Linked DNA regions of Homo sapiens: region 2 is linked to region 1. Evidence: fine-mapped expression QTL. Tissue or cell type: tibial artery. Region 1 holds a variant in brackets; the other region holds the start of a gene. All regions are shown on one strand. Distances are between the middles of the regions.

Region 1 (2,754 bases):
TGGGTGTAGATTACCTGCCACTTCCAGGAGCCCAGAGGGCCAAGAGAGACATTGCCTCCACCTCTCCTTGGAAATACTTTATCTGTGACCACACGCTGTCTCTTGAGAATTTGGATACACTCTCTAGCTTTAGGGGACCATGAAGAGACTCTCTTAGGGAAACCAATAGTCCCCATCAGCACCATGGAGGCAGGCTCCCCCTGCCTTTGAAATTCCCCCACTTGGGAGCTTGTATATACTTCACTCACTTTTCTTTATTGCTGTGAATAGTCTGTGTGCACAATGGGCAATTCTGACTTCTCCCATCTAGTGGAAATGAGCGAAATCATGGTTGTAGTGATGTTGTTTGGGAGAGTGCAGTAGTAATTGATTTGACCCACTCACACTTGGAGCTAATTAAGGTTTGCCCTGCCTGCAGCCTCCCCCACAAATAATGAACAGCAGAAAGACTGGACGGGGAAACCTATCAATCCTGCCCCCAGCCATGGTGAGGAAGCCCCAAGCCATGGTGACACACAGCAGCACTGCAGATAGCCAGACACATGGCTATCCTAGAGAGGCTGGCAAGGAGTTCGTGGCTGCAAAAGAAGTTTCTGGAGCAAGAGAGAGCTCGCTCTTGGGAGTCAGGACCTCCGGGGAGAGCAGAGGGTTCCGACGGATTCCTTTATGAGTCAGTCTCTCTCTCCCTTTTAAATGGTGGGAACCCTCCCCAAAACCTTTCCCCAGACACATTCTCCTGTGCCCCTCAGAGAGGCATGTGATGTGCAAGGAAAATAATAGGATATAAAACACATCAAGTAGAAAATTTCTTATACTTCAGCTTCAGTGAAGTGTTGTCTATGTTAATAGGCAAGTTGAACCTCGGGCTAAAGAAAGGAATTGTGTGGATGGCTGCCTTGACTGAGACAATATGGGCAGGGGGGCGTTCCTGCTTCCCCAGAACAAGGGCAGGCTTCCCAAAGGCACCCCTTATTTGCTGTCTCTTCGTAAGCGTGGGCACCAGTGGGTTGATGTGGGAAACAGTGCTGGTGCAAGTGTTTAAGTTTTGGATAAACTGAGGATTTTGAGAATCATTATTACATTACATAGCAACAAAGAAACAGATTGATATAATCTGTGTGAAATAAATTGCTGAGGAGAGGGATTGTAGGGAAGAAGTTGCTTAGTTAGGCACCTGGGAAGCTCAAATCATTTAGTTTAAACTGTAAGTAGAGTTGTCTTCCCAACGAGAACTGGTGATTCCTGATTTCAGAAGGCTCATCAGACCCCTACACCCAAGTCTTTTAACACGGAGGAAGTTTTTCCTTCATGAATACATACAAGATACCGAACTGAAGAAATCTTTTCTTTGCTCCAACCCCCGCTCCCCCGGCCCCCCGAAGCTATTAATAGTCATTCAAATGGCACTGCACTCTTTCCAAGCTTTCCTAAGCTAAATATGGCTCCAA[C/A]AGGTCTGGGAACTATTGAATGCAATGTACTCTGAAATTCCAGCAGCTGTTTACATGCCTGATGCCTAATGCCATACGCCTGGAACTTGCTGAGAACTCTCGGCTGCCTCTGTCCTGGGGTACTATTGCTGACCAGCAGGGTGTAGGCGCTGCTTTTGTTTGAGCTTTGTAGCCACAAGGTCTGATGTCTGTTGTGAACAGCAGCTGACTTCAGCACTCTGGCCAGCTTCCTCAAACTTGTTAGTGGCTTGCATTTTGTCAATTTTTCTTTGCCATTTCAGTCTTTCAAGCAGCTGAATCGCAGAACTGAAACAAAACACTTATATTGCAAAGTTCCTTCCCTTTAAAATGAGCTTCTGGATTGCAGAGATGATTTTTTATGGTCTTAGCGTGCCTCATGCTGTAGACCACATCGTTGGAGCTCTGGGAGAGCTCTGAGCAGAGAAAGACCTTGGTGATCCCCCCTGGCCCGATCTATAGGATTGAGGAATGAGGCTTGTAGAGGTGGCTTGCCCAAGGTCACAACACTAGAGGGTGGTTGAGCTGGGCCAGGACCCAGACAAGCCCTTTTCTCTCAGTCTAGTGAGGCCTCTGGGAAGGATAGGTGAAAACTATAAATAGCTGTTCAAGATACTCTGAGTAAAAGTCAGTGGTGTTATCTGGAATTTCTACTGAAGAGGAAATACAGCAGCAAAGGTAGACTCATCAGATGGTGAAAGTGTCATCTCCTTTGTAATTTATACTGGTGAGAGGAGGGGAAGGATGTGCTTTCCTATTTTTACACTGGTACTTCATTCATCCTTGTCTTAAACTTAAGAAATGAAATGCATCAGGGCACACATATACATAGAAACAGCACATAAGCCATTTTGGATGGCAATTCCAGCACTCTTTTAATGGATTGGCTTAATTTTTTTTTCTGATGCCTCTCTATGTGTTTGAAAAGTTGTATTGATAGTCACACAGAGTGTACTAAAATAACCTAAAAGGTCTTGAACCTCCCCTTTACCTCTTTAGAACCTCTGAATTTGGAGACAGCTAGCAAACGGCAACTGTAGCCTAGCAAAGATGGCACAGCACCACAAAGGGCAAATGGAGTCAACTCCCTTCCATGCTCTGAAGGTCTTGGCCACTCTCATCAGGGTTGGCTGTGTACTATCCAGCAGCTCACAGTCAGGAGACCTCCCCTCCTCAGTCCCTCCCATTTCTTTCTTCCGCAAGGAAAGAACATTGCATGTGGGCGTGTGTGTGTGTATGTGTGTGCATGTGTGTGTGCATGTTTCTTCTGTGCATAGCAGCATAAAGT
Region 2 (2,754 bases), 40 kb before region 1:
ATTTGCCTTCTTCTAGAGTATAAAAGCCCAGTATTTAACCTTGCCCATGGTTGCCTGGAATAGAGGGTGCTTTTCCCACCCTCCTTTGCAGCTAGCAGTGCCTATGTGACTAAGTTCTGAGCAAGAGGTGTGGAATTGATGGCTGCCACTTTCAAGATGTGTCTTTATGGGTGGAGGTGCACCCATCTCCTTCCCATTCCTCCTTCCTGCTGGTTGGAATTTGGATATCGTGGCTGGAGCAGCCACCTTGGATCATGAGGTGGAAATCTTGGACCAAAGGATGGTGGAAGCTAGAAGACCCAGGCACCCTGATGATCAGGGAGCAGCCACTCCAACCTTGGGCTGAACCTCTGGCCTTGCTTTACATGAGAGAGCCCTTGGTTATGCCATTGTTGTTTGGGGTGGGATTTTCTGTCACTCCCAGGTGAACAACCTAATCCTAAGTGATACCTAGAAGGTCCCTGCTAGACTGACCTCTTGGGAGGGGAGGGAATAAACGAGTCTCAGGTGGTGGAACCAGAGCTTGCTGGAGAGGAGAGTCTCTCCTGGTGAATGGAAGCCAGGGGCCCCTCCCACTGGCTGTCTCCTTCCCTGGGCTCAGGCAGGTCCAGCCTTCCTCAGGACTTTGAGAAGTTCAGTTCTCTCCCCAGGAGTAGCTACTTTCACAAACTTCCTGTCCCTTTAGTCGACATGCCCCACGGCAGGTCCGAGGCTGGGCTCTGCCACAACTCATCTTTCCTAAGAGTGGCATCAAGGTTCTTTGGTGGGGGATCCTCTTTTCCCATCCCCACTTCTCAAGAGCATTAGGGAAGATACAGTCAGTGCCCTCTTAGCATTCTCTTTCCACTTGTTGGGTGTAAGAAGGGAACCTGAGGGCCCTGCAGTGTTTAGGGGTGGGAGTGGAAACAGACAGGAAAGATCCAGAGTCCCCAAGAAGCGAAGCAGGGAGAGAGATAAAGAAGGCAGGAACAACCATGGACACACATTATCACACATACACAGGTTACAAGAGCAGGAGGCTGGAGCTGCAAGAGGTGGCAGGGAAGCTTCCAGAAAGGCAGACCCCAGCCTCATCCCTCCCTGCCCTGCAATGCTGAAGTTTCCAGGTAGAGGGGAACCTCTAGACCCTTGCGACTGTCAGAGTTCTGTGGATCCATTTGTCAGTCTCCCCACCCCCAACCTTGACTATCCTGGGCCTGCCTTCAGGACAGAACATGGGAATGAGAAGAGGACCTGGGAAGGGGTAATCCTGGGAAAAAAAAGTTCTTATTAGTCACCCCTGGCTCTGAGGATACTTTCCAGGAGTGGCCTGCCAAGCCGTGTGACCTTGGACAAGTCCCGTCCATTCCTCAGGCCTCAGTTTCCTTTGAGGGACCCTGAATGGGCGGGGGTTGCTGTAGCTTTCCTCAGCTGGGAGACCCGGGAGGAGGTCCGGGGTGCCAGGGTGGGAGGAGGGCCTGGCTTGTCGCTGAAAGCCGGCCAGGCGCACTGTCGGCGCTCAGAGCTGGTGGCCGCCTCCTGCGCTTCCTGATTCCCAGCCGCGCTCGCTCGGAGAGCAGTGCCCGCTATCTCCTGGCCCGGGACCGGCAGAGGGGTGCGGCGGGGCGGGCCCAGGGGTCTCTGGCGGCCGGAAGAACCGGGACCCTGCCAGGCCCCTCCCGCGGGCAGGGCGGCCCCTCGCCGGCTCCTCCCCCACCGCCCGCCACCAGCCCGGGATCAGTCTCCGCACGCGGTTCCGCAGGTGGCAGCGATGGCCCAGTCCTGAACTCCCCGCCATGGCCGGCGCCCCCGGCCCGCTGCGCCTTGCGCTGCTGCTGCTCGGGATGGTGGGCAGGGCCGGCCCCCGCCCCCAGGTGAGATCCAGGGACCCCGACGACACCGGGGGAGGCGGGTGGCTCTGCGGGCTGCAGGCGCAGTGTCCTGGTGGAGGGCCCCGGGACTTGAACGAAACTCCGAGACCGCTGGCGGGGGCATCCGAAAGCCTCGGGGGGAGTAGGGACTGGAGACTTGGTGCCCCTGGGCTGGAAGGCCCAGGTGAGGGCTTGGACTACAGAGGATTCCCCCCAACCCCAGCGAGGCGCCCTCTTCCTCGCCACCCGGGTCCCTCTGCCCGGGCACCCGCTGCCCCGCGGCCGCCCTGCGCTGACTTCTGCTCCGCTTCTCCTTTGTCCCCAGCACTTTCCCAACTCCTTCTAAACCGTGTCAGCGGCCCTGGCACAGCCCGGCATCCTCCCGGACTCCCTCTGCCCCACAGTCTGACCCAGACCCCTCTCCCGCAGTGCCTCCCCAGACAATCCACCTGCTCAAAGACCCTGAGAAGACCCTGGGAGGAGCTGAGAGGGCCAGGGTGCGGAGACCCGGCTCCTCTCCCTTTCTCATCAGCCCCCAGCACAGCCTTTGATTCATGGCTCCTGGGGCCCTGCGGTGGCAGCTTGTCCTTCCCAGTGACCTCCCAGATGGAACCTACCCCCCGTCCCCTACCAGCCTCTGTAGCAAACAGGCAGAAGGCTCAGTGCCCCCCTGGAAGCAGCCAGGCGCCCCCACTCACCCACTCTGCTGACCTCCCATTCTCATCCTGCACTGACAGCAGGCCCCAAGAGAAGGCATACTGGGACACGCAAGAACACCTGGGCTCCTTGGTGCCACCAGAGAGCAGGCCACAGGTGGACCACCGCAGCCCCTCTCTCTTGCCCTTGTTGCTTTTCCTGCCCTGGGATCCTGGGCTAGGGACAGTGGTCAGCTGCTTTTGAAGAG

Evidence for each region. PIP is the estimated chance that this variant, and not a neighbour inherited with it, causes the effect.
Region 2: it holds the start of GLP1R, and the variant in region 1 is fine-mapped to the expression of GLP1R in tibial artery (GTEx, PIP 0.98).

The regions. Positions count from the first base shown.
Region 1 is chr6:39,086,926-39,089,679 of GRCh38, forward strand. It overlaps GLP1R (glucagon like peptide 1 receptor), which reads left to right. Exons shown (of 13, transcript NM_002062.5): 13 at 1-2,754. Among named protein-coding and RNA genes, the nearest start is that of MIR9983, 14 kb to the left of the region's middle. RefSeq lists an enhancer at 902-2,208. The variant C/A (reference allele first, on the strand shown) is at 1,449.
Region 2 is chr6:39,047,066-39,049,819 of GRCh38, forward strand. GLP1R (glucagon like peptide 1 receptor) reads left to right here and starts at 1,716. Exons shown (of 13, transcript NM_002062.5): 1 at 1,716-1,853. The coding sequence starts at 1,776. RefSeq lists an enhancer at 2,400-2,754.